Linked DNA regions of Homo sapiens. The protein of the gene in region 2 interacts with the protein of the main gene of each other region in a biochemical or structural test. Each region holds a gene or a part of one and is shown on either strand. Other genes may lie near its edges.

Region 1 (7,892 bases), about 31 Mb from region 2:
AGGCAGGTGGATCACAAGGTCAGGAGATCGAGACCATCCTGGCCAACATGGTGAAACCCCGTCTCTACTAAAAATACAAAAATTAGCTGGGTGTGGTGGAGCATGCCTGTAATCCCAGCTACTCAGGAGGCTGGGGCAGGAGAATCGCTTGAACCAGGGAGTTGGAGGTTGCAGTGAGCCAAGATCATGCCACTGTACTCCAGCCTGGTGACAGAGTGAGACTCCGTCTCAAAAAAAAAAAAAAAAAAAAGAGTCAAGTCATACACTTAAGTTTGATATATTTCACTGAATGTAAACTGTGCTTCAAGAAACAAAACCCTTCCATGCACAAAACACCTAGGGTGACATCTGTTTCCTGCACTGAATATCTGATTTTGGGAGAGGAGCCCTAGGACAAGAGACAGCAAGAGGGGCTGAGAGCAAGCAGGGCACCAGAAGCTGGGAGCGTGGAGGGACGTGACCAGGGAGAAGTCCCCTGTGTTGGGGGAGGCCTGTGAATTTTAGGAACTCTGATATCTAACTCTCAAGGCATGTCCTTGCCAAGCAGCAATACAATTAAGTGTGCCTAATCTTATGGCTCCCACACTTTCAATTGTTCTTCCTGAAACAATTAGATATGAAGCCGCAAGAGCCCAGGCAGGGCTGGATTGATTCTTGAACTAATCAACATTTATGCCCTCTTGGCTAAACTAGGCAGAGTTGGTTTTATTACAGTTCAGATGTGATTAAGCACACTGTATTGTGTCAGCGGCAGGTGACGAGCCACACAGTGTCCTGAGGCCTGATGAAAGGGCTATGCCAACCACAGTCCCAGAGGAGGAGCTGGCTGTAGCAGCGACTGACCCAGGAGCTGAAGTGAGCCAAGCCCCCTCCTCCTGAGACCCCTGAGAGGTAAGGCAGGCTCATGCCAGACCCTATTACGTCCCACATCATGGCTAGAACCAGAACCATCTTACATGGCTGGTCAAGGCAAGGATAACCCCAGGAAGTCAGAGGACTTGGAGACTCTGTATTGTAGGAAAAAAAAAAAATACTAGAAAAGACACTGGAGCGTCACCAGCAGTCACCCCTGGATGGTGGCATTATTATTATTAGTAGTATTTTTTTTGAGATGGAGTCACTCTGTCGCCCAGGCTGGAGTGCAGTGGCATGATCTTGGCTCACTGTAACCTCCGTTTCCTGGGTTCAGGCAATTCTCCTGCCTTAGTCTCCTGAGTAGCTGGGATTACAGATGTGTGCCACCATGACTGGCTAATTTTTGTAGATGGTGGCATTATGAATATGGATTTTGGTTTTCATCATCAAATATTTCTGTTTTCCCCACATTAGCTGTAAACAGTATATATTTTTGGTAAATTAAGTTGAAAGAATGAAAAAATTAAAATAGTATAAAGAATATCTGTTTAAGTGCAGTGGAGTGTGCCTGTGGTCCTAGCTACTTCGGAGGCTTAGATGGAAGGATTGCTTGAGCCCAGGAGTTCAAGACCAACCAGAGCAATGTAGCAAGACTGTGTCTGTTTTATTTTAAAAATAAATAAATAAAACATAAAGAATAACTGTTTAAAATACTATTCAAAATGAAGTCATAAAGGAGGGGATTATGTTTTTTAGTCATAGTTCCCTCAAGGGCTCAGACCGGAGAACATAACCGAGTTTGGAGCCCTCTGGCACTGTCTTTGCGCCTGACCTCTGCTCTCCAGGGGGTGACGTGAGCTGGTGGGTGCTGAGTCATCATGGGTGGGTCACAGCCTCCCTCGGAGGCCTGGAGATGGGCCTGTCTGTGCTGAACTTTACTGGGCAGGGGGCAGCTCCAAGGCCCTCACTGGGGGCAGCCTAGAGCATAGATCACTCTCTGGACTTGCTCTTCTCCTAATAAATGGACAGTGATCAATGAATTACACCCATGAAATAGGGTGGGATGCAATAAGAAATAAAAGATAATATAAATAGCCAGATAGGGTCAAAAGATGATTTATTTTACTTTATATTTTTGAAATAATTTCAGATTTACAACATAGTTGCAAAAATAATGCAAATGTTTACATCTTACATAACCCAGTACAATGATCCTAACACTGACAGATTGTTGTTGTTGTTGTTAATTTGAGACAGAGTTTCACTGTTGTTGCCCAAGCTGGAGTGCAATGGTGCGATCTCGGCTCACTGCCGCCTCTGCCTCCCGGGTTCAAGCGATTCTCCTACCTCAGCCTCCTGAGTAGCTGGGATTGCAGGTGCCCACCACCATGCCTGGCTGATTTTTGTATTTTTAGTAGAGACAGGGTTTCACCATGTTGTCCAGGCTGGTTTCAAACTCCTGACCTCAGGTGATCCACCCACCTCGGCGTCCCAAAGTGCTGGAATTAGAGGCGTGAGCCACCATGCCCAGCTAGATTATTGTTAACTGATCCAAAAGCCTTATTTGGATTTCACCTGAAGTCCTTTTTCTGTTTCAGGATCCAACCCAGGTTCCCATATTGCATTCAGTTGTCATGTCACTTTGGTGTCCTTTTCTCTGGAGCAGTCTCTCAGTCTCCTTGTTTTTCCTGACCTTGAAATTTTTGAAGAGTTATTCTGCAGAGCAGTGCTATCCAATAGAACTTTCAGTGATGATAGAAATGCTCTGTTTGGGCCTGACGCTGTGGCTCACACCTGTAATCCCAGAACTTTGGGAGGCTGAGGCAGGCAGATCACCTGAGGTCGGGAGTTTGAGACCAACCTGGCCAAGGTGGAGAAACCCCGTGTCTACTAAAAATGCAAAATTAGCTGGGCATGGTGGTGCATGCCTATAATCCCAGCTACTCGGGAGGCTGAGGCAGGAGAATCGCTTGAACCTGGGAGGCAGAGGTTGTGGTGAGCCGAGATCACGCCATTGTACTCCAACCTCAACAACAAGAGTGAAACTCTGTCTCAAAACAAAACAAACAAAAAAAATAGAAATGCTCTGTGTCACCGAGTATGAAGCCATTAGCTACATGAAAATAGCATTTGAAATGTGGCTCATGGGCCAGGTGCAGTGGCTCACGCCTGTAATCCCAGCACTTTGGGAGGCCAAGGTGGGTGGATCACTTGAGGTCAGGAGTTTGAGACCTGCCTGGCCCATATGGTGAAACCTCGTCTCTACTAAAAATACAAAAATTGGCCGGGCGTGGTGACATGCGCCTGTAGTCCCAGCTACTCGTGAGGCTGAGGCAGGAGAATCACTTGAACCCGGGAGGCGGAGGTTGCAGTGAGCCGAGATTGGGCCACTGCACTCCAGCCTGGGTGAAAGAGTGAGATTCTGTTTCAAAAAAAAAAAAAAAAAAAAAAAAGAGAAATGTGGCTCGTGGGTCTCAGGAACTGGCTTCTAAGTATTATTTAATTTTAATTAAAATAGCTACATGTGGCTAGTAGCCATTGTATTGGATAGGACAGCTGTCAAATGTCTCTCGTTTTGGGTTTGCTTACTGTTTCCCTATGATTAGTTTCAGATCATGAGCTTTTGATAGGAATACCATAAGCATGTTGTTGTGTTCTTCTTTGTCTAAATCTTTATAAAAGCTGTTGATAGGTGGCAGGGAACCACCTAGTCAGGCAGTGGGATTGTTTGAATGCTCTTTGAGGTCCAGCAAAGACAGGAGTGATAGCTGCACTTGGAAGCCCGCTCCTACACTTTCAATGTTCTTCCTGAAAGAATTAGATATGAAGCTGCTAGAGCTGCTCCGGTGGGGAGCAGGCAGGATTGATTCTTGAACTAATCAACATTTATGCCCTCTTGGCTAAACTAGGCAGAGCTGGTTTTATTACAGTTCAGGTGTGATTAAGCATACTTTGTAAATGCTGAAGGTTGTGAAATATTCACAGGGATATAAAGTACAGTAATAAAACCTCACTTGAGGCTGGGCGTAGTGGCTCACGCCTGTAATCCCAGCACTTTGGGAGGCCGAGGTGGGAGGATCACCTGAGGTCAGGAGTTTGAGACCAGCCTGGCCAACATGGTGAAACTCCGTCTCTACTAAAAATACAAAAATTAGCCGGGCGCAGTGGCATGTGCCTGTAATCTCAGCTACTTGGGAGGCTGAGGCAGGAGAATTGCTTGAACCCAGGAGGTGGAGGTTGCAGTGAGCCGAGATCGCGCCATTGTACTCCAGCCTGGGCGACAGAGCATGACTCTGTCTCAAAAAAAAAAAAAAAAAAAAAGAATAGAAGACCCTGTGCCTGGAAGATCGTAGGTGCTCAGTAAGTGCTGGCCTCTGCCCCAGAAGGGGAAGGGCGAGGCAGATGGCAGGAACTGCGGGAGGTACCTGTCCCAGGCCCTTGGGCGTAAGAGGCCTCTCCCACGCAGCACCCAACCCATACCCAGCCTGCCCGCCAGCCAACCTTGGCGTCCCTGCCTTGCGCCTACCTACCCAGCAGTCCCCCGCCCGCTCCCACTCCCACAGGCCCAGCGTGCACGTCTCCAGGATAGGCATCCTTGCCCCTGTGACTTCAGCGGCACCCAACGTTTATTGGGCACTAACTGTATGCCAGGCCATGGGGGTGCCGGAGAGAACGACACGAAGACCCTCACCCCTCAAAGTTCCCAGGGGGAGGAGGGGCTGCTTCACTTGGGAAGCGTGGGGATGGAATTCTCAGCCCCCCGATGACTCCGAGGCCGGCCACCTGCCTGGTTTCTGGCCGGACACCGGACTTCCCCTGGAAGTTGCTCGAGACTGCGCGCCCCCAGCAAAAAATCAGGTCGGTTCTCCGAGCCCAGTCTAGCGCTTCCCGACCCGCAAACCAAGGCCCAGTGACCGTCCCCGCTGCGCAGCCGCCTGCGTCGCCAGCCAACCACGCGCGGCCGAGTAGCCCCGCCCCTCCACATGGCCAATGGCCGCGCGCTCTGCCCGCCCCGCCTCCTCGCTGCGGGAAGGGTCCTGGGCCCCGGGCGGCGGTCGCCAGGTCTCAGGGCCGGGGGTACCCGAGGTAAGATCGCTTCCCGGGCGTTGGGTCCTTTCGGCTCAGCACGCACGGACGCCTTTAGGGAAGGTGGCTGCAGCGGCAGGACGGAGTCCGCCGGGACGCCCTGGGTCTGGGGTGCGCGGGGGGCCCAGGAGGGGACAGGACGCGCGGGGATCCGGAAGAGCGGGCCCTGTCGCAAGAGTTTCGGGAACACTGAGGGCTCCAGGCGCCGCATCCAGCATCCGGGGAAAAGGGGGTAGGTGGCGCTGGGCGTCTGCTCAGGCTGGGGGAAAGGTAGGGCCAGAAGGGGACGGGCAGCGGCCGCTGACCTCCTCCTGCCGCCCGCGGGCCCAGGGTGACGCTAAGGTGGGGCCGAGCCTCGACCGGGTGCGCCTAGAGGTCGAGTGCTGCCGCCCTCCGCTGGGTCTGGACAGTTCTCGGCGGCGACACCAGCTCAAAACGGCCTCCCCGCCCTCCGCGGACCTGGGTCGCGCCCAGGAATCCGATCCAAGGCTGTGAGGCCTGTCCCTTTGGGAAGGGTGGGTGTTTATTTCCGGGATGCACTCAGAGCCTCTGGACAGTCAGGTCGGAAACTTTGCTGTATTGGGAACACTCTGTCACCTACTTCCTTCTCAGTTGGGAAGGAAGTGCCAAGAAAACATGAAACAAACCAAAAACACGAAAAAGGGATTCTCTGTATGGAAGCCGTGAAGCCTCAAAAATATCTAGGAGGACAGCCAGCGACCTGGGACCTGTGGCAGCCATGTGAAAGCAGGGTTAATGTCTGGACTAAATGTTGCTTCCACCTAAGTGCACCCTCAGCCTCCCTCCCGCCAAGTGACCTTGGGTCCTCTTTGGGCTTGAAGGCAGGTGGCTGTGTGGGTCTCGCTGCAGGGGTCTCTGTGCCCTGCAAGGTGTATGACCAGTTGCAGTGAGGCAGCAGGTTTTGGGTTCAAATCCTGTGCTAGCCTCTGGCCAGCTGTGCACCTTGGCAACACTTTCCCTGTCACGGGATTGGGGAAGGATTAACTGAAAGAACCTTAGGATGTGCCTGTCTACAATGGGCCCTCCATAAATGTGAACAAATGTGGGCTTCCTTTCCTTTTGTTTGGGCCACATCATCCCTTCCCCTCCATCTGTGGCTGAAGCTGGAATGCAGAAGAGTGCCTCATCTGACTGCCTTCTGGTACCTGGCTGATGCCATGAGAAAGGAAGGAGAAAGGGGTCTTTTTTTTTTTGAAATGGAGTCTCACTCTCTTGCCCAGGCTGGAGCGCAGTGGTCCAATCTTGGCTCACTGCAACCTCTGCCTCCTGGGTCTAGAGATTCTCCTGCCTCAGCCTCCTGAGTAGCTGGGACTACAGGTGTGTGCCACCATGCCTGGCTAATTTTTGCATTTTTAGTAGAGACGGGGTTTCACCATGTTGGCCAGGCTGGTCTCAAACTCCTGACCTCAAGTGATCTGCCTGCCTCGGCCTCCCAAAGTGCTGGGATTCCAGGCGTGAGCCACCGCGCCCGGCCGAGAAAGGGATCTATTAACTCCCATAGAGTTGTTCTTTGCTAATTTCTTGAAGGCTCAGAGGACCCCCGCCTCACCTTCCTGATTCTCCTGACCTGTCATTAGTACTTGCCCCACGAGGAATGTAGCAGGGCCTGCTGGCTGGCAAAGCAACTCATGCATGTGAGGCTCTGAGGCCAGTGACAGGACTGCTTCCCCTGTGAGGAAGGTCTGGTGGCCCAACAGCTTTTAGGTGCTGTCTGCTCTACAGCACTGCCTCCTGAGAGAGGTCTCATGCCTGCCTGATGCCCACTTGGTCCTCTCCTGCCTCCTTCCCTCCCTGACAACCCACTTGGAATCCAATAGCATCTCAAACTTCACTTGTTCCGAACTGAGTTCTGGAGTCCCTTCTGAGCCACTGCTCCTCCCCTGGCTTCTCTGGCCTGGTAAAAGGGCACCTTCCATCCACCCAGTGCCCAAGGAGTCATGCTTCTTTTCTCTCCCTTATCTCCTACACCCTCAAAACACCAGGAATCTGGCTGCCTCCTGCCATCTCTGTGGTTCCCATCCTGACCATAGTCATCCTGTCTCCTGGGCTGTGGCCTCCTTACTGGTCTCCCAGTTTTCATCCTGGCCCCTCCAAAGTCCTCACAACCACCAGAGAAGTCTTTAATGTAAATCAGATCCTCTTCTTTCCCTGCCGGAACCTTCCAGTGGTTCCCTGTTTCACTCCAACTAAAACCCAGAGTCCTTTCCTACAGCACTCTACATGAGTGGCCCCTGCCACCTCCTTGACCTTGACAATCTCTGCCCCTTTCCCTAGCTTGCTTGCTTTTTTTTTTTTTTTTCCTATGATGGAGTTTTGATCTTGTCACCCAGGCTGGAGTGCAATGGGATGATTTCAGCTCACTGCAACCTCTGCCTCCTGGGTTCAAGCGATTCTCCTGCCTCAGCCTCCCGAGTAGCTGGGATTACAGGCGCCCACCACCATGCTAATTTTTGTATTTTTAGTAGAGAAAGGGTTTCACCATGTTGGCGAGGCTGGTCTCAACCTCCTGAGCTCAGGTGATCCACCCGCCTAGGCCTCCCAAAGTGCTGGGATTATAGGCGTGAGTCACGCAGCCAGCCATCCCTAGCTTTCTTGACCTAGACCACACTGACCTGCTTTCTATTCTTCAAACATGCCAAGCTCATTCTTGTTTTAGGACTTTTGCATTTACCATGCTCTCTGCCTAAAACACCAATCTTCTCAGAGCCTGAGAACAGCTCAGCTGTGTTCTGCACGCTAGTTCAGAAAGGCTTCTTTGACCCCCTAGTTCAAGTAGCATGCCTGTCTCCAGGGGCTCTGTCTCATTACCTGCTTTACTTTCTTTAGAGCCTTTATTGCTATCTGGAACTCTTATTTGGGTATTAATTTACTGATCTGTTATTTGTCCCACCCCATTAGAATATAAATTGGATGTGGCATAGACCTTGTCT
Region 2 (6,410 bases):
ACCTCCGCCTCCCAGGTTCAAGTGATTCTCCTGCCTCAGCCTCCCAAGTAGCTGGGACTACAGGCATGCACCACCACGCCCAGCTAATTTTTGTATTTTTAGTAGAGACGGGGTTTCACCATGTTGGCCAGGATGGTCTCAATCTCTTAACCTCATGATCCGCCTGCCTTGGCCGCCCAAAGTGCTGGGATTACAGGCATGAGACACCGCGCCCGGCCTGTTTTTGTTTTTTGAGATGGGGTCTCTCGCTCTGTCGCCAGGCTGGAGTGTAGTGACACAATCTTGGCTCACTACAACCTCCACCTCCCTGGTTCAAGCAATTCTCATGCCTCAGCCTCCCACGTAGCTGGACTACAGACACGTGCCACCATACCCAGCTAATTTTTTTGTATTTTGTAATTTTTGTATTTTGTATTTTTTGTATTTTTTTTTTTTGTAGAGATGGGGTTTCACCATATTGCCCAGGCTGGTCTACAACTCCTGGACTCAAGTGATCTGCCTGCCTTGGCCTCCCCAAGTGCTGTGATTACAGGTGTGGGCCACCACACCTGGCCTATTTTTTGTTGTTGTTGTTTTTTGTTTGTTTTCAGCATTTTTTGTTGTTTTTCTGAGAAAGGGCCTCTGTCACTCAAACGATCCTTCCTGAGTAGTTGGGACTATAGGTGTGTGCCACCAAAGCCAGCGAATTTTCTTATTTTTTTTTTTTTTTGAGACAGAGTCTCACTCTTGTCACGCAGGCTGGAGTGCAGTGGCATGATCTTGGCTCACTGAAACCTCTGCCTCCCGGATTCAAGCAATTCTTGTGCCTCAGCCTCCCAAGTAGCTGAGATTACAGAATGCACCACCACACCCAGCTAACTTCTGTATTTTTAGTAGAGACAGGGTTTTGCCATGTTGGCCAGGCTGGTCTCGAACTCCTGGCCTCAAGTGATCTGCCCACCTCAGCCTCCCAAAGTGTTGGGATTACAGGCGTGAGCCACTGTGCCTGGCCTAATTTTCTCATTTTTGTAGAGACGGGGTCTCACTATGTGGCCCAGGCTGGTCTCAAACTTCTGGGCTCAAATGATTTTCCAACCTGGGCCTCCCAAAGTGCTAGGATTACACTATTACTCCTTCTTAAATTTCTTTGAAACTCTGCTCATGGATTTTCTGTATTTATTATCTAAGTAATACATCTATGTAATAAGGCTATAAATCTGATTTTTTTTTTTTTTAAAGAAATGGATCTTATTTTGTCACCGAGGCTGGAATGCAGAGCTGCAATCACAGCTCACTGCAGCCTTGAACTCTTGGGCTCAAGCAATTCTCCAGTCTGGGCCCCCCAAAGTGCTGGGATTACAGGTATGAACCACCACACCTGGCCTGCCATGGCCCCCCTCCCAAGTTTTCTTTCTTTTTTTTTTTTTTTTGATGGAGTCTCGCTCTGTCGCCCAGGCTGGAGTGCAGTGGCGCGATCTCCATTTACTGCAAGCTCCGCCTCCCAGGTTCGAGCCATTCTCCTGCCTCAGCCTCCCGAGTAGCTGGAACTACAGGCGCCCGCCACCACGCCCAGCTAATTTTTTGTATTTTTAGTAGAGACGGGGTTTCACCATGTTAGCCAGGATGGTCTCGATCTCCTGACCTCGTGATCCGCCTGCCTTGGCCTCCCAAAGTGCTGGGATTACAGGCGTGAGCCACTGCGCCCGGCCACCAAGTTTTCTTAGCATATGTATCCTCATTTTTTGTTTGAACTAAATAATTTTTATTTATATATGACTTCATATTTAGAATAGGTTTAAATTTCCACACAGCTGGAGCTTACGCGGCTTTTGTCTGTGGCCAAAGAATATGGTTGAAACTGATTTGATATCTGTTGAGATTTGTCGTGCACCCTAGTAGTTGGGTCATTTTTGTAAATGTTCCTTGTGTGATTGAAAATAATGTGTTGGTCTCACACAGGTCTGAAATTTAAATTTTAAAAGTTAAAAAACTAACTGTCAGGTTTTCTATTGGGGTTCATTGATCTTGATTAGTAACTGTATTAACATCCTCTATGTCCTTTTTTTTTTGGTTGTTTGGTTTATTAGTTACTCAAAGAGGTCTTATGTCTCCCTATGATGGAGGACCTGGCAATTTCTCCTTGTGTTCTTAATATATTTTCAGCCTCTTTTTTTTTTTTTTCGAGACAGAGTCTCACTCTGTTGCCCAGGCTGGAGGGCAGTGGCGCAATCTCAGCTCACTGCAACCTCCGCCTAGCAGGTTCAAGCAATTCTTGTGCCTCAGCCACCTGAGTAGTTGGGATGACAGGCGTGCACCACCACGCCCAGCTAGCTAATCTTTGTATTTTTAGTAGAGACAGAGTTTTGCCATGTTGGCCAGGCTGGTCTTGAATTCCCAGCCTCTAGTGATCCACCCACCTCGGCCTCCCAAAGTGCTGGGATTACTGGCATGAGCCACTGCGCCTGGCCTATTTTCAGCCTTAAAAACAAAAACCCTGGAACATAGAAGTTCAGAACTTTCCTCTCTTCACAGAGTTCCTCCTCGCATCATTTCATGTTGATCCTCTTATCCCCAGTGTCTTCTGCCTGAAGGCCTATTTTGTCTGAGTTTTCTATAGGTACATCTTTTGGTTAGTTTTTCTCTAGTACACCTTTTCCCATCGTTTTACTTTTTGGTGCCCTTAGGTTTTAAATTTCCTCTTGTAAATAGCATAGAGCTGCATCTTATTTTTTCTTGGCCAATCTGGTCATCTGTGTTTTAAGAGGTGAATGTAAACCACATTTTCTACCTCTGGTTTTGTACTATATATTTACCATCCCTTTTACTTTGCTTCCTTTTTCTCCCTTTCTGCCTTCCATTATAGTTTTAATACCCATCACTACCCTTTTCTCTGCATTGGCAGTTATAGTTCCGTTTGTATTCTTTTGGTGATCCTCTTAAATATCTGAAATACACACCTGACTTTACAAAGCCAGACAATGCTCAGTCTCTTTAACCCCCTCTCAAATTGCCCTCTCAGTCTTCCATGTTCTTGTGTCTCATGCATCTTGTTTCTGTGGCCCACAAATTAATCATTATTATTCATATTGCATATTAAATGCTTGTTTAGATTCACATGTTTACCAATTTGCTCACCATTTTTCCATCTAATTTCTTCCTTTTGGGTTCCATGTCCTTGTTACTAAACTACATTCTTTAAAAATTATTTCGGCGGCCAGGCGTGGTGGCTCACACCTGTAATCCCAGCACTTTGGGAGGCCGAGGCGAGTGGATCACGAGGTCAGGAGATCGAGACCATCCTGGCCAACATGGTGAAACTCCATCTCTACTAAAAATACAATAATTAGCTGGGGGTGGTGGCAGGCGCCTGTAATCCCAGCTACTGAGGAGGCTGACTGAGGCAGGAGAATCGCTTGAACCCGGGAGGCAGAGGTTGCAGTGAGCTGAGATCGCACCACTGCACCCCAGCCTGGCGACAGAACGAGACTTCGTCCCCCTCCCCCCTCCCCCAAAAAAATGTTGATCTTCAGTCTGCGCATTCTGCTCTGGATTTTAAGCATCATTTCTGGCAGCTCTTTTTCAGGAACTGTCTCTGCAGGTCTTTCAGTGTTCGCCTCTGGAGCTCTGCTCGGGCCCGCGAGTTCTCCTGGCGTTGCCATCTGTGCCCTTTTCCTTATTCCCCATCACCTGTCTCTCTGGTGAGCTGCTTCCGATCAGCCTCCAGGTCCACGATTTCTCTTCTGTTGTCCTTTTCTGCCTTCTCACCTCATCCTCTGAGACCTGAATTTCGATGGCTCTACTTTTCAATTATATTATTCTTTTTCAAACCTGGGCGTTCATTTCTAGCATCCTGTTCTATCCTGTGTCTGACTGTGCCTCCCGCACCTTCTCCCTTCTCTCGCCCTAAGCCCCGTGAAGGCGCCGGGCCTTTGGCTCCGGCTGTTTCCCACGGCGCCCAGAACCGCGTCAGTCCTGACACAGACTCGGTGAGGGCGGGAAGTGGTGCCGTGGGGCTGCAGCCTGGCCCGCCCGCTCCATCGGCCTAGGGCGGCCCCACCGCCCTCCGGGCCTTACCTTGAGTTCGGGCTGCGGGAGAAGCTCCCGCGCTGCCCATGACGTCACGGGACTGTGACGCGCCCAGAAGCCCCGCCCCTCGCGTCCCGGTCCGCGGACCCAGGCTCTCTGCGCCGTGACGTCACGGGTCCGGGCGGGCGGGTTGTGCGTCGGCCCAATGGGAGCGGCGCACTGGCCTCCCCTTTAAGGAATGTTGTGACCTGACGTCACCGGGCGAGTTACCTCCCGCAGCCGCAGCCGCCGTGCTCAGCGCGAGCCCCGGAGCCCTTGAGCGCGAGGCGCGGAGCCCCCGGAGCCCCCAAACCGCAGACACATCCCCGCGCCCCAGAGCCCCGGCCTGCGCGCCCAGCCGGGCCCGCGCGATGCCCTCAGACCGGCCTTTCAAGCAGCGGCGGAGCTTCGGTGAGGCCCGGCAGGCGAGCTGCGAGCTCTGGGGCAGGGGTGCCGGCCGACCCCGACTGCCGCAGGTGACGTCAGCCCCGTGACGTCAGGCTCTGGCTGGACCCTCGGGCTGGGACCAGCTCCGGCCTGGGCGGGGGCTGCCCGCTTCCCCACCGCGATAGGTGCCAGGGGCTGTGGGGCCTGATGGCCCCGGGGGTGGGGGCTGGAGCTGGGGCGTGGCCGGGGGCCGCCCCTCCGGGACAGGCGGGGCGGACCTGGGCCGGCCCGACCCGGCCTCACGGTCTGGCCGCTGTCCGCAGCCGACCGCTGTAAGGAGGTACAGCAGATCCGCGACCAGCACCCCAGCAAAATCCCGGTGAGTCCCGCACCCCCAGCCCTGCCCCGCCCCCGCCTCGCGCGTTCCCGACACGACCCCCTGCCCGCCCGCCCTGCTCCCAGGTGATCATCGAGCGCTACAAGGGTGAGAAGCAGCTGCCCGTCCTGGACAAGACCAAGTTTTTGGTCCCGGACCATGTCAACATGAGCGAGTTGGTCAAGATCATCCGGTGCGTGGGCAGCCGCCGCCAGGAGGTGGCTAGGGTCGGGAGGGGAGCCGGGTTCCCGCCGAGAAGGGGTGGGAGTGGGGTCAGGGGTGATGGGACCGGGCGGTGGGCCCCTGTTCTGGGGTGGCTGGAAAGGTCAAGGTCGGGGCTGCAGTCGGTGTTGGGTCAGAGGTGACAGCTGGGGTGAGAATGGGTGTGAAAGGCTGGGAATCATTCTGGGGGTCAGGGCTATGTCCGTCCCGCAGCCAAGCCCCTCACAGCTGCATACTCTCCCGCCGGCTGCAGGCGCCGCCTGCAGCTGAACCCCACGCAGGCCTTCTTCCTGCTGGTGAACCAGCACAGCATGGTGAGTGTGTCCACGCCCATCGCGGACATCTACGAGCAGGAGAAAGACGAGGACGGCTTCCTCTATATGGTCTACGCCTCCCAGGAAACCTTCGGCTTCTGAGCCAGCAGTAGGGGGGCTCGGCCTGGGAGTCGGGCGGCCCCGGTCAGGCCCTGCCCAGAGAGCTCCTGGTTCCTGAACTGAGCTGCCTCTACCGTGGTGGGCTGGGCAGGCATGTGCCCCCCTAGTCAGAGGGCACCAACCCACCTACTCTGCCCCTGGGTGGATCCTGGGCCGGTCGTGTTAGGGTTGTCCCTCTGGGTGCTGGCTGGTGGGATGGGGGAGGGTGGGGAGCAGCTCCCAGCACCCCTGCTGTGTGGTTCATCTTTTTTTTAGGCCCCTGCCTGTCTGCCCATCTGCCCCTCACCCACCCGAGGCTCTGCCCACCGCCTGGACCTGCCCACCCCTGAAAGACTGGCCCCTGGCTCCCCGCCCCTCGGTCTCCACGTGGTGTATGGATCTGTGGTCATTGTCCCTCTGCAGAATAAAGATTGCTCAGGCCTGCCTGGCCCTGTGCCTCCAGCCGCTTGCTTGGGAGTGGGGAGGGTGCTGGTGGGGCTGCCCGCACCATCCCCGGGCTCTGGCGCACAGACTTGTGTTCTGTGGCCGCGGTGCTCGCTCTGGAAACCCACACCTGTGTGTAGTGTTCCAGAACATTATTAGGGGCCACCCCCTCTAGGAGTGCAATGCAGATGTGGTCTCAGGGTAGACTTCATAACAAAAAACATTTATTAAGTAGCCACAATCTAACAAGCCCTGCTCACCTGCCTCTTCTCCTTCCTGTCTGGGAGGGGGCTCCTTGGTGTGCAGAGCCACAAGGTGGGGGTCCAAGTTGGGGAGCTCCCAGTTCTTCCCCATAGGCCTTGCTGTCAGTCAGCCATGGGTCCCTTTTGGTACCAGAGACTTGTGACCCTGGACTCGAACCTCTTCTGCCCAAGCACTCGCCTGCTGGCAACTCTGGCTGGAGGGCTTGGCCCAGCTTCTGGCCCCACAGCCCCCTGAGGTCCATGCAGCCCTGTGCCAGCCAG
Region 3 (7,024 bases), on a different chromosome or scaffold from region 2:
ATTTGCATTTCTCTAATGACCAGTGATGATGAGCTTTTTTTCATAGGTTTGTTGGCCGAATAAATGTCTTCTTTTGAGAATTGTCTGTTCATATCCTTTACCCACTTTTTGATGGGGTTGTTTTTTTCTTGTAAATTTGTTTAAGTTCCTTATAGATTCTGGATATTAGCCCTTTGTCAGATGGATGGATTGCAAAAGTTTTCTCTCATTGTGTAGGTTGCCCGTTCACTCTGATGATAGTTTCTTTTGCTGTGCAGAAGCTCTTTAGTTTAATTAGATCCCATTGTCAATTTTGGCTTTTGTTGCCACTGCTTTTGGTGTTTTAGTCATGAAGTCTTTGCCCCTGCCTATGTCCTAAATGGTATTGCCTAGGTTTTCTTCTAGGGTTTTTATGGTTTTAGATCTTATGTTTAAGTCTTTAATCCACCTTGAGTTAATTTTTGTATAAGGTGTAAGGAAGGGGTCCAGTTTCAGTTTTCTACATATGGCTAGCCAGTTTTCCCAGCACCGTTTATTAAATAGGGAATCCTTTCCCCATTGCCTGTTTCAGTCTATCCAATTTCTAGATTTATTTCTCATTGTCTTTGTTGTAAGATTTGCACATTTATCAGAGATTTGGGAATTAGTGTGCTCCTCTCTCTGACTTTTGAAACTGGTAATAGTTTACTTCTGTAGAAGGGGAGCAGGCTAGAGACTTTGTTTTCCTTTAGTACGCCTTCATACTGTGACTTTTTAAAAAATTATATACTTGTATGATTTCACAAAAGAAACCTCAAAATAATACACTCCAGGAAAAGTATTTTAAATAGAAAAAGTAACCTCTAACATCTCGGCTTGTGTTTTCTCCCAGTCGTTTCCACTTGTTCCATGTGACACAGACCAGCCTCAAGACAAGCCCCCAGACTGGTTCACAAGCTACCTGGAGACGGTGAGTGTTCTGTCTCGCTTGGGTTTTAACTGCGGTGTTGGCACAGGTGGAATGTGGAAGAAATAGAAAACTGAACCCAGGTGGCTGCTGCCTCTAGTACCGGTGAAGAGTGGTAGCTTATAATTTCCAAACTTAGAACAGTTCCAGTCGAGAAAGCTCTAACCTTTGCAGTGAAGTGTCAGAAAAAGAGGGAGTCTAATTCTAAGCATGTAAGGGAGAGGGACAACTCTCTGCTTGAGAAAAAGTTAGAAATTTACTTATCAAAAGGATGTTTTGATATTTTCTTCGAACCAGTTTAGCTGTGGAAGGAATAGACCTTTTGCTATGTTTCTGTCTATTCAGTAGCAGTTGTTTATTGTGTTTTTGTATTATACCAGAGACAGTTAGGTTTCAGATCTATTGATATCTTCACATTTTTTTCTGATATTGGAACTGAGTTTTTTCCCTACCTTCTGCTCCATATTCTAGTTCAGAGAACAAGTGGTTAACGAAACGGTTGAGAAGCTTGAACAGAAATTACATGAAAAGCTTGTCCTCCAGAACCCATCCTTGGGTTCTTGTCCCTCAGAAGTCTCAATGCCTACTTCAGAAGAAACATTGTTTTTGCCAGAAAACCAGTTCAGCTGGCATATTGCTTGCAACAACTGCCAAAGAAGGATTGTTGGTGTCCGCTACCAGTGTAGGTAAGCAGTTGCTTGGGAGTAGCTAGCTAGTGATAGACCTTACAGCTTTTACCTCCCTGGCTTTCTGTGTAGGTAAAGGGAAATTAATTGTACCCTGTTTCTGAGCATTAGATGTTGTAGCTGTGAGTTGGAAGCACAAGCTACTCTTCACCCACATGCTTTGTATGTTGTAACTATTCAGATTGTTGTGTTCAAATGTGCATTTGGATTAGCAAAGCCAGGCAAAATTATGTTCCCCTGAACGGACAAAATTAGATCACTAAGGGTAGTTCCTCGGTTGTTCCAAATGCCTTTTTTTTTTTTTTTTTGGTGACAGGGTCTCTGTCACCCAGGCTGGAGTGCAGGGTGCAATCATGGTTCACTGCAGCCTCACCCTCCCAGGCTCAGACAATCCTCCCACTTCAGCCTGCCAAGTAGCTGGGATCACAGACTGCCTTTTAATTATTTTTTTGGAGATGGGGTCTCCCTATATTGCCCAGGCTAGTCTCAAACTACTGGACTCAAATGATCCTCTTCTCCATGGCCTCCCAAAGTGCTGGGATTACAGACATGAGCCACTGTGCCTGGCCCCATGTACTTTCACATCTTACCTTCCTCCCATAGATTTTCATTTAAAATGGATATGGGTTAAGTGTTATTATCCTCATTTTATTAATGAGGAAAATTGAGGCATGGCATAGTCAGATGGCATGCTCAGGTTACCTGCTAGTTGGTACTGGAGCAAACATAGAAGTATGGTCTTATATCTCCCTACCCCAGGTACTTCCTATTCTGCCATTGTGTATTGTGCCATTCTTTCCCCACAGCCTATGCCCATCCTACAATATCTGTGAAGATTGTGAAGCAGGGCCATATGGCCATGACACTAACCACGTCCTGCTGAAGTTGCGGAGACCTGTTGTGGGCTCCTCTGAACCGTTCTGTCACTCAAAGTACTCTACTCCTCGTCTTCCTGCTGCTCTGGAACAAGTCAGGTAAAACCCTCTACATGGAGATGCTTATTCTCTGATTGACTTCTTGGTTCTGGTGACAGGGTATGAATCACAAAACTACAGATAGTCTCCTTAGTTCTGCTCATTTTCAATTGATGTGCAATAATGAAGACAGTTATCCAAAGTTAGTGAAATAGAAATAATAGCTATAAAAAGAAATTAAGAAACTAAAGTAGGCTGGGCACAATGGCCCATAACTGTTATCTCAGCAACTTGAGGGGCTAAGGTGGGAGGAGTGCTTGAAGCCAAATATTTGAGACCAGCCTGGGCAACATAGCAAGATCCCGCCTCTACAAAAAAAATTTAAAAATTAGCCAGGCGTGGTGGTGCGTACCTATAGTTTCAGCTACTTGGGAGTCTGAGGTGAGCAGATTGCTTGAGCCCAGGAATATGAGGTGGAAGGGAGCCATGATTAGACCACTGTACTCCAGCCTACATGACAGAGTGAGACCCTAATTCTAAAACAAAAAAAGAAATTAAACTGGAAGCTGACACTGATGGAAATTGCAATTGGCTCCACATAGCTTCAGAATTTATTTGTGACTTTCTTTTAAGACTTGCTTTTATTATCTCACAGGCTCCAGAAACAGGTTGATAAGAACTTTCTTAAAGCAGAAAAGCAAAGGTTGCGAGCTGAGAAGAAACAACGTAAAGCAGAGGTCAAGGAACTTAAAAAGCAGCTTAAACTCCATAGGAAAATTCACCTGTGGAATTCAATCCATGGACTCCAGAGCCCCAAGTCTCCTTTAGGCCGACCTGAGAGCTTGCTCCAGTCTAATACCCTGATGTAAGCCCAGGACTGGGGTGGGAGCCAAAACTTTAGGCCCAGCTCTCTGAAACTGGAACTTCAACCAATTTCCGTCTTATTTATTGGTAGCCCTTAACACCTAAATCTTTAAAACTTTCCATTATCTGGTCTTAGTATTTTTTGTTTGTTTGTTTTTTGAGACAGAGTCTTGCTCTGTCACCCAGGCGGTAGTGCAGTGGTGCGATCTCGGCTCACTGCCAGCTCTGCTTTCGGGTTCACGCCATTCTCCTGCCTCAGCCTCCTGAGTAGCTGGGACTACAAGCACCCGCCACCACGCCTGGCTAATTTTTTGTATTTTTAGTAGAGATGGGGTTTCACCGTGTTAGCCAGGATGGTCTCGATCTCTTGACCTCGTGATCCGCCCGCCTTGGACTCCCAAAGTGTTGGGATTACAGGCATGAGCCACACAGCACCCGGCTTTTTTTTTTTTTTTTTTGAGATGGAGTCTCGCTCTGTCGCCCAGGCTGGAGTGCAGTGGCATGATCTAGGCTCACTGCAACCTCTGCCTCCCGGGTTCAAGTGATTCTCCTGCCTCAGCCTCCTGAGTAGCTAGGATTACAGGTGCATGCCACCATGCCCGGCTAATTTTTGTATTTTTTCAGTAGAGATGGGGTTTCATCCTGTTGGTCAGGCTGGTCTCGAACTCCTGACCTCATGAATCCGCCCGCCTTGGCCTCCCAAAATGGTGAGATAACAGGTGTGAGCCACTGCGCCTGCCTGGCGTGGTCTTAGTATTATTAAAGGGTGGTTTGGTAGTTTTTTGTTTGTTTTGTTTTTGAGACGGAGTCTTGGAGTCTCGCCTGTTGCCCAGGCTGGAGTGCAGTGGCGCGATCTCGGCTCACTGCAAGCTCCACCTCCTGGGTTCACGCCATTCTCCTGCCTCAGCCTCCCGAGTAACTGGGACTACAGGTGCCCGCCACCACACCCAGCTAATTTTTTGTATTTTTTAGTAGAAACAGGGTTTCACCGTGTTAGCCAGGATGGTCTCGATCTCCTGACCTCGTGATCTATCTGCCTTGGCCTCCCAAAGTGCTGGGATGACAGGCGTGAGCCACCGCGCCTGGCCAAGTTTCGTAGTTATTTTTGACACTTGTTTTGTTTCCTTCTTCAGAAAGATAGAAACCACTAAAGTTCAAAATGGCGGGGTCCCTCTCTTCATTGGAGGCAATCTGGAATTGAAGCAAAAGGAACAAATGTGTTAAAAGCCTGACTCTCTAGGTGTTGTATTTATAGGCCCTTTTAATTACTCTTACCATGACTTTTTTAGCTCAGGAGTGAGACCTATCCTCTGTTTTGTTTTATTGTTTTAAGTTTGTCAGAAAATTTATTGTTTCTAATATGTGGTCCTATACTAGTAATATCAGTATTATTTTTAAGGCAAATGGGTTAGCACATTTTCAAGAGTCACAGTCAGACTCTCAAGCTAGTGTGAGGTATTCAGAAGCCTTCACACCCAACAGCAAGTGACTAAGCATCTGAATTTCTGTTCAGGCTCCCTTTGCAGCCCTGTACCTCCGTTATGCCAATGCTCAGTGCAGCATTTGTGGATGAGAATTTGCCTGATGGGACTCACCTTCAGCCAGGAACCAAGTTTATCAAACACTGGAGGATGAAAAATACAGGAAATGTAAAGTGGAGTGCAGACACAAAGGTAATTTTTCCCACAAAATGCAAAGATGAGGTGATTTGAAGTGGCAGAGTGCTCAGCTGACAAGCTTGCTTTCTCTTCTTACTGTTCTTTTCAGCTCAAGTTCATGTGGGGAAACCTGACTTTGGCTTCCACAGAAAAGAAGGATGTTTTGGTTCCCTGCCTCAAGGCCGGCCATGTGGGAGTTGTATCTGTGGAGTTCATTGCCCCAGCCTTGGAGGGAACGTATACTTCCCATTGGCGTCTTTCTCACAAAGGCCAGCAATTTGGGCCTCGGGTCTGGTGCAGTATCATAGTAGATCCTTTCCCCTCCGAAGAGAGCCCTGATAACATTGAAAAGGGCATGATCAGCTCAAGCAAAACTGATGATCTCACCTGCCAGCAAGAGGTGAGCATTGACTGACAGGCTTTGGCCTAGTATCCAAATCTTAGTTAGAGAGGAGATGGCTAAAACTAAAAGAACCCACTCATAGCTGGTTGTTTTCCAGAAACCTTGAAAGGTTAGCATCTCCCCCCGCCCCAACACATCTCTATGCTGATATTTGGCCTCTTCCTTAGGGTGTTTGTTTTAGCGTCTTTAGGGTCTTGCTGCATACTGAATACTTTTGTACCTCTTTGTGATGTTGCATGGTCAGCCTGTTGGCTGCACAAGGGAAAAAGGGACTCCTGGCCTGGGCTGGCCTGTGGAACTGCTGAACTGATAGCTTTACTCCTTAACATCCATCTCTCCTGAAATACCCTGTGTATGTTCCCTAAATACTAATGAAGTCTTGCCCTGGTTGCTACTTAGTGAACAGTTTTTTAATGCAATTTCTCTGTATTAGTGGGGCAGAGTGTTTACTGCTTAAAGTTATCCAATGTTAATTTTCTGGTTTTGACTATTATAGTTAATATAAGTTATCGTCATTAGGGGAAGCTGGGGAATGTGAATTCTCTCTGCTGTTTTTACAACTTTTTCTATAACTGTAAAAATATATCAAAAACATTGTTTTTTAAAATATGGAGGTACAGCAGCGTTTTTATTTTTGGGGGCATTGTCAGCCTGCCTCTTCAGTTCTGTTGAAGGCCTAAAATTTGTCTCAATGGTTTGTCTCTATAGGAAACTTTTCTTCTGGCTAAAGAAGAAAGACAGCTTGGTGAAGTGACTGAGCAGACAGAAGGGACAGCAGCCTGCATCCCACAGAAGGCAAAAAATGTTGCCAGTGAGAGGGAGCTCTACATCCCATCTGTGGATCTTCTGACTGCCCAGGTGGAAGATTCAGCACTTTGAAGGGCAAGGGACAGAGGGAGAGAGCACAGGAGAGAAGGTGGTAGAGCCATAGGCAGTAATCAGGAAATCAGAGATATGCCCACTTTGATCTAGTCAGGTATATTTAATGGGAAGGAGATCACCCATGGAAGCAAGTTTGTAAACTAGATGTTTCCTCTTTGAATTGGGAACTCAATCCTGTACTTCCCCACAAACTCCCTTTAGTTGCCTCTTCACCTTGGCCTAGCTAATTCTCCTTCATACCTGCTGCATTTTCTCTTTCCTGCTATTGGGTTATTTCAACATCTAATTCCCATTTAACTCTTCTTGTTTTCACTTGTCTGGGGACAGGCATGAATTTGAACAGAGTTGAATACGAAATGATGTGGAAATGGTCTACAGGTCCCATCAAGACATGGCTCCAGCATGCACTCCAAACAGCCTAACATTGTCTTTTTTTATAGGACCTGCTGTCCTTTGAGCTGTTGGATATAAACATTGTTCAAGAGTTGGAGAGAGTGCCCCACAACACCCCTGTGGGTAAGAATGTCACTCATTTCATCTTGTTCGTCTTACTAATAGGCACAAAAGTACCACAGCCTAGACACTGGTAGTGTTTTATTCTGAGGAAATGGCAAGGATTTCTCCCACAGTAGGATAGTAAAGCAGCAATCATGGATCCGTTTTTCTTCTTTCCTGTCCTTTGTCAAAAGTAA
Region 4 (7,024 bases), on a different chromosome or scaffold from region 2:
CCCACCGTTCCTCCTAGATTCCTAGATGCAGGGGAGGCCTCTGATTTATTGCCCAAGGCAAAGGAGGGTATGATAGCAATCAAACAAGGCCAGTGGGTGGCTATCTACAAGGAACACATTTTCTAACAAGTTATAATGCTTTCTATGTAATAGTGGAGGAGAGAGAAAAATGTTTAAATTTTTTGTCTGATTACTTGGCTCAGTTTGGCATTAATAATCTGTCTATACGTTTGGGTAATTCTGTAGTTTTTTTTTTTTTTTTGAGACGGAGTCTCGCTCTGTCACCCAGGCTGGAGTGCAATGGTGCGATGTCGGCTCACTGCAAGCTCTGCCTCCCAGGTTCATGCCATTCTCCTGCCTCAGCCTCCTGAGTAGCCGGGACTACAGGCACCCACCACCACACCCGGCTAATTTTTTGTATTTTTAGTAGAGAGGGGGTTTCACCGTGTTAGCCAGGATGGTCTTGATCTCCTGACCTCGTGATCCGCCCGCCTCGGCCTCCCAAAGTGCTGGGATTACAGGCATGAGCCACCGCATGCAGCCTGTAGGCTCTTTACTGGGATAAATTGTAAGCATTGCTAGTTAAAGATTTCTAGTTACTTGAACGTCAGTACGCTTTCTGTACCAAGAATTCTCATAGTAGAACATGCTGACAGTTTGCATTTAATGAGAAAAATAACATTAGCTCTTACTTAAAGTTTTAAGGTTTGCCTAGAGTCAGTATGTGTGTTGGTCTTGCTGCCTTGTTTACTGAGCATTCTTAGCCTGACTTAAAAAAAATTGTAAGTATCTACTTTTTAAAATCTTCAGACACCAAGGACTTTATGTTTAATTTAATGGAGGTCATTTCTATCCTGAAAAGAATCCTAAGAAATGCAAGCTTTTTGACTTTTGAAAATGACCTGATAAAGTTTCTTAGAATTCGTGAGGTCCGGCCGGGTGCAGTGGTTCATGCCTGTAATTCTAGCGATTTGGGAGGCCGAGGTAGGCGGATTGCCTGAGCTCAGGAGTTTGAGACCAGCTTGGGCAACATAGTTAAACCCCGTATCTACTAAAATTAAAAAAAAAAATTAGCTGTGCATGGCAGCCTGTAGTCCCAACTACTCGGGAGGCTGAGGCAGAAGAATTGCTTGAACCTGGGAGGTGGAGGTTGCAGTGAGCTGAGATCGTCGTGCCGTTGCACTCCAGCCTGTGTGACAGAGCAAGACTGTCTCCAAAAAAAAAAAAAAAAAGATTTTGTGAGTTTCTTCATCTTGAATTGTTTAACCTTTTACTAAATATCGGTTATGACAAATCATTTAAGTACAAAGAAGAGAAAATAATCTCTGGAGGTGTTTTTGCTTTCCTTCTGCTGTTTTTTAGGACTCATAGGACTAGACAGTTCATTAATTTCAGCTTTGCAGTTCATTTTGCCATTGTGAAGAGGGAATTTTTTCTTAGTTGATCAATGAATAGCAGAATTAGAGACCGCAGAGATTACAATTATTAGACTTTCTCATCTGTACACATGATTACATATACATTTACATTTTAAAACTCATCTAGTATGATTTCATTTATATGAAAAGTCCAGACTAGGAAAATCCACAGAGACAGAAAATAGATTAGTGGTTGCCAGGGGATGAGAAGAGGGGGAATGGGGAGTCTCTGCTAATATGTATGAGATTTCTTTTTGGAGTGATGAAAATATTCTGGAATTAATAGTGATGATGGTACAACCATATCACTATACTAAAAAGAAACCACTAAATTGTATACTTTTTAACATGGTGAATTTTATGGAACGTAAATTATATCTCAATAAAAAGTCATCTAACAACCATCCAATTTTAATTCTTAGCAAGATTCAAGAAGAAATATTAATTAGCTACATAAACTGCATTCATATTCAGTGGTCACAGGCTTGTAGGCAAGCTGCCAAATACCCACATATGTCTGGAATGCTACCATGAATTTAATTAAGGCCCCAAAAGCTGTAAGAATTCTGAAGCAAGAGCCATTAGCGTGAGTGGGAACAGTGTCAAAGACAGCCTCACAAATCCTTTCCCCTGGATCTCCTACCCTGGTGGGGGATCGGTCAGATATACCCGTGAAGATGTAACCTCTTCTATTCACCCATCCAGCTTACTACTTAGAGCCTCTCCATGGCTCTAATCATGCACTCGCTTTATCTCTGCTCTGTCCACAAAGTGAGCTGCCTGGTGTCTGGGACTGGGGTTTATTCATCTTATTGTCAGTGTCTTATGTTTTGCCTTGTACATAGCAAGGGCTTGATAGTTGTTGACTTAAATCCACTAAGCCATTTACAAAAGCAATATTGTATTATTTCAGGCATGCATACATATGTGAATAGCACAGCTTCCTTAATAACATGTAATTTATTTGATTGTGAAGAGAATGGTAACTGTTTGGAAGTTGTGCTTCTGTAGATAGTACATTAAGTATCTATGGTCAGTGGAAAAAAGCTTAAGTTTTGGAAGCAGAGTTCTGATCTCTTCTCTGCCCCTTGCCATCTTTTTTGTTGTTGTTTAGGTTTTTTACCCCTTTGTAAGATTCAGTTTTCTGTTTATAAAATGGGATAATAGTAAATACCTCCCAGGGGGGTTTTGTAGGTTAAAGGATGATGATGATAATATCAATTACATATTGCACATTTTCTGTTAGCAAGTGGTCAATAAAGTATATTATGTTTGTCATCATATTATTAGTGGTGGTATATGAGACTATTTTGGGAATACAAAAGTCCTTTATTTGATCATGAGTTCTGTTGGGGATGAGGATATTTGATAAGCTGGACAGACTTTGTTTGCATAGCTTTGCTATCTTAATTGGCCTTGAGAAGCTACATTAATAGATGCATTTCACCTTAAGTTAATGGTGCTATTCTAATAACTTATTTATACTTTTTTTTCTAGGATCTAAAGAAGTACCACTTCTACTATTGGTTTTGCTATCCTGCCCTCTGTCTTCCAGAGAGTTTACCTCTCATTCAGGGGCCAGTGGGTTTGGATCAAAGGTTTTCACTAAAACAGGTATCAACAAATAACCAAAATGCACATAAAATTGGGTTGAATGTGCAAGAGTAGTTATGTAGTTCTTTCCAAAGACAAACAGGCACTTCTCTGGATGAAGACGTGGTAACTGAAATCCTCCAAAGGTGGTACTAGGAGCAGACTTATTTAGAAAATGTTTGTAAAGTCATTTTTTTGTATATATATTTATATATGTTTTGAGACTGGGTCTCACCCCCATTACGCAGGCTGGAGTGCAGTGGCACGATCACTGCTCACTGTAGCTTCAACTTCTCAGGCTCAGGTGATCCTCTCATCTCAGCCTCCTGAGCACCTGGGACTACAGGCATCCCATCACACCTGGCTAATGTTTGTCTTTTAATAGATATGGGGTTTTGCCATGTTGGCCAGGCTGGTCTTCAACACCTGGGCTCAAGCAATCTGTCCACCTCAGCCTCCCAAAGTGCTGGGATTACAGGCATGAGCCACCCTGCCTGGTCTGTAAAGTCATTTTGAAGATGTAGTGCACAGTAATTTTCCAGGTTTTCAGTGGTATTTGGTGAAATGCTAAGCCAGTAAGGGGGAATTATAGGAATATTTTGAAACACTGAAAGAATTTACCAAAATGTGGTCTTCATTTTCAATGTGGGGAAACATAAGGCAGTATAGTCTGGGAAAGAGTCTTTGAAACAAAACAGAAGGCATTCTCCTACCCTTGTACCAAGTTGCAGAACTTTTCTACCTGGAGCAGTACATGCAGAGTTAGTCGGTGACATTTGGGATAGATAATAAGTTCATTAGAGATGGTTCCCAGAAGAGCAGTTAAAATAATCAGGCTGGTATAACAGAGACCCTAAACTAGAGAATTCTTATTGTTGTTAAGGCAAAGATTATGTGTCAAGATGATTTGAATTCTTGAAACACATCAATCACTAAAGCCCTGAATACTGATGCCATCATTCAGGGAGCTCTCTTGGAGCTGTTCAGGGAGCAGCCATTATTGATTAAATTTTTTTTGTTGTTGTTCGTACAAATCCGAGGTTGTGGTTTTGTGGAACTAATTTCCCAAGAGGAAATATAAGTAAGGAAAAAGGATTTTGGCTGAGTATTGACTGCTGGCAGGTATGGGGTTTCTTTTATTGAGGACAAAAATGTTCTGTAATTATTGCTGTGGTGCTTGCATAACCCTGTGAACATACTAAAAAAACAAACAGCACATTGCATTATGTACTTTAAATGGGTGAATTGGGCCAGGCACGGTGGCTCACAACTATAGTGTAATTCCAGCACTTTGGAACGCAGAGGTGAGCATACCACTTGAGCTCAGGAGTTCAAGACCAGCCTGGGCAATATCGTGAAACCCCATCGCTATAAAAAATACCAAAAAAGTTAGCTGAGCCATGGTGGTGTGTGCCTGTGGTCCCAGCTACTCAGGAGGCTGAGGTAGGAGGATTGATTGAGCCCAGGAGGTCGAGGCTGCAGTGAGCTGTGATTGCCTGGGTGACAGAGCAAGACCCTGTCTCAAAAAGTAGTAAATGGGTGAGTTGTATGGTATGTTAGTCATGTCTCAGTAAAGCTGTTGAAGATTATGGAAAGGTTCGGGGTAAAATTCATCAGGGGTAGATTCATGTTGGGTTATCATAGGAGAGAAAGAATGTTTCGTTACCGCTCTAAAACTCTGATTGACAGCTTAGGGAACTACCATGTTGTAGTCCCTTTGTGCCCCTAAGACACACACCACCATGCCCCTGGAAAGTGTTATATAAAAGCTAAGTGGTATTATTTGGAGGCACTTCTATGTTCACTTGCTGTAATAGAGTAAGAGGAGTGTGATCAGTCATTTCTAGTCTTCTGGTTTTAAGGTACCTTTTTTTTGAGTTAGTTTTTAGCCCAGAACTAGAAATGTAATTTTCTAGAGAATAACAACGTGTTTTCTGTTTTCAGATTGAAGCACTAGAGTGTGCATATGATAATCTTTGTCAAACAGAAGGAGTCACAGCTCTTCCTTACTTCTTAATCAAGTATGATGAGAACATGGTGCTGGTTTCCTTGCTTAAACACTACAGTGATTTCTTCCAAGGTCAAAGGACGAAGGTCAGATAAACTTTGAGTATCATTTTATTATATAGTTTTTTAAAAAATCTGAAGTTCATGTTACAAGAGACCACTGCAAAATTCAAACTTGTTTAGATTTCCTTAGCCTTCAAAGGATGTTTAAGAACATTTCCTTATCTCTATCCTCTCCCACCCCTACAGTTATCGAATCAGCTCCTCTAGGTTTTTCTAGCTCTACTACAGCTCAGAATAATTTTGATACCTTACTCTTTTTTTTTGTTTGTTTGTTTGAGATGGAGTCTCGCACTGTTGCCTGGGCTGGAGCGCAGTGGCGCAATCTTGGCTTACTGCAACCTCTGCCTTCCTGGTTCAAGCGATTCTCCTGGTCAGCCTCCCGAGTAGCTGGGACTATAGGTGCCCGCCACCATGCCTGGCTAATTTTTTGTATTTTTAGTAGAGACAGAGACGAGGTTTCACTATGTTGGCCAGGTTGGTCTTGAATGCGTGACCTGCTTCGGCCTCCCAAACTGCTGGGATTATAGGTGTGAGCCACTGTGCCCAGCCAATACCTTACTCTCTATTAGTGCTAAAGTTATTTCCGTTTTCCCTCCTGATGTATTTTACCCTCTATGTTTTAATTTTTATTCCCAGAACTACCCTGTAGTTCAGGCCCCTCATATCACACTCCTGGACACTTAGAATCTTGTTTCCATGTTGTGCAACACTACTGTAGAAGAATCTCCCTTGAACTACCCACATTTAGTGTATCATTCATTGACCAAGAGCATAATGGTGTCTTCCTTCTGGCTCCAAGCTGCCTTTCCTGCCTTATCTTCCATTATTTTCCTCATAAAGCATTGCTCCAGCTAATCTTATCTATTTTTCTCCAGAATCTCCATCCCCTTCCCGTCAGATACATCTAAAACTTTTTTTGTATCTTTGTTTTTCCTCGTGTTGTATCATCTTCCTAAAACATGTTCTACTTGTGAAAACCCTAAGAAATTCTCTCTGTCTTATTGAAATTCTATCTCCACTGTGAAGCATTATCATGGTGTGGCCATATATGATCTATCCCTATCTGAAGTCACTGCATTTATTCCCTGATCCTCATTTGCAGGTCCAGTACCTTGTACAAGTTTCTTTTTGTGCCATATTAGACTGTAAGCTCCAAGAGGGCAGGGCCCAAGTCTTATGAATTTGTGTCTGCATAGTGTCTAGTACTTGTCTGAGGCCCTCAATAAAATTCTTTTGAGTGAATGAAAGAGTACCGTAAATGTCTTTTAGAAGTGATCAGATATATAGGAAGTTGTCTTAGCCATACAGGAGACTATGAATTAAAAATATCAAAGATTATGAGTGTTATGAAGTTCTGAAATCAAATGGAATCATCTCCATAGCCATGTGAATATATCAGAGCTGAAAAAAGGAAAGCCTTTAACTGACGGTCTGGTTATTCTTTAGCCTGAACTTAGGATGACTTTTTTTTTTAAAAGCACATTTTAAAATCAACTACATTTACATTTTATTTTTCAGAGGAAGCCCACCTCCCCTTTTTTGTTGTATTTTTATTAGAGATGGGGTTTCACCGTGTTAGCCAGGATGGTCTTGATCTCCTGGCCTTGTGATCCGCCCACCTCGGCCTCCCAAAGTGCTGAGATTACAGGCGTGAGCCACCACTCCTGGCCCAGAGGAAGCCCTTTTTAAATTGAGGACTGAAGATTGAATTTTTATTAAAATTCTTTCCCCCAGGTGATTTCACAGAACCACAGCTAAATTAGTATAGCAATAAGACCGTTAATAATTTAAAGTCCAATCTAGTGTGAAGTCCTCTTGTCATAGCAGGCAGGATTAAATGGCCTGTGTTTGGAAGCGACCGTAGGTCAGGTTGTATGTGGTAAATAAGTGGTCCTCCCCAAAGTGCAGCTCTGCCAAAATAATAACAGTTTGAACAGTGCTTT

Evidence for each region.
Region 1: the proteins of MAP1LC3A (region 2) and MAVS form a complex in vitro, tested with the Homo sapiens proteins (2 studies listed by BioGRID and IntAct, with this or other methods).
Region 3: the proteins of MAP1LC3A (region 2) and NBR1 form a complex in vitro, tested with the Homo sapiens proteins (2 studies listed by BioGRID and IntAct).
Region 4: the proteins of MAP1LC3A (region 2) and ATG7 form a complex in vitro, tested with the Homo sapiens proteins (2 studies listed by BioGRID, with this or other methods).

The regions. Positions count from the first base shown.
Region 1 is NC_000020.11:3,841,963-3,849,854, forward strand, and holds the start of MAVS (mitochondrial antiviral-signaling protein), read left to right. Parts: upstream 1-4,871; 5' UTR 4,872-4,941; intron 4,942-7,892.
Region 2 is NC_000020.11:34,554,454-34,560,863, forward strand, and holds MAP1LC3A (microtubule-associated protein 1 light chain 3 alpha), read left to right. Parts: upstream 1-4,264; 5' UTR 4,265-4,284; coding exon of another isoform or gene 4,285-4,415; coding exon 4,416-4,455; intron 4,456-4,754; coding exon 4,755-4,810; intron 4,811-4,893; coding exon 4,894-5,000; intron 5,001-5,282; coding exon 5,283-5,445; 3' UTR 5,446-5,892; downstream 5,893-6,410. UniProt on the Homo sapiens protein: Ubiquitin-like modifier involved in formation of autophagosomal vacuoles (autophagosomes). While LC3s are involved in elongation of the phagophore membrane, the GABARAP/GATE-16 subfamily is essential for a later stage in autophagosome maturation.
Region 3 is NC_000017.11:43,188,192-43,195,215, forward strand, and holds part of NBR1 (next to BRCA1 gene 1 protein), read left to right. Parts: intron 1-850; coding exon 851-928; intron 929-1,396; coding exon 1,397-1,611; intron 1,612-2,417; coding exon 2,418-2,585; intron 2,586-3,180; coding exon 3,181-3,390; intron 3,391-4,902; coding exon 4,903-5,062; intron 5,063-5,156; coding exon 5,157-5,447; intron 5,448-6,158; coding exon 6,159-6,308; intron 6,309-6,772; coding exon 6,773-6,848; intron 6,849-7,024. UniProt on the Homo sapiens protein: Ubiquitin-binding autophagy adapter that participates in different processes including host defense or intracellular homeostasis.
Region 4 is NC_000003.12:11,310,389-11,317,412, forward strand, and holds part of ATG7 (ubiquitin-like modifier-activating enzyme ATG7), read left to right. Parts: intron 1-2,915; coding exon 2,916-3,032; intron 3,033-4,955; coding exon 4,956-5,105; intron 5,106-7,024. UniProt on the Homo sapiens protein: E1-like activating enzyme involved in the 2 ubiquitin-like systems required for cytoplasm to vacuole transport (Cvt) and autophagy.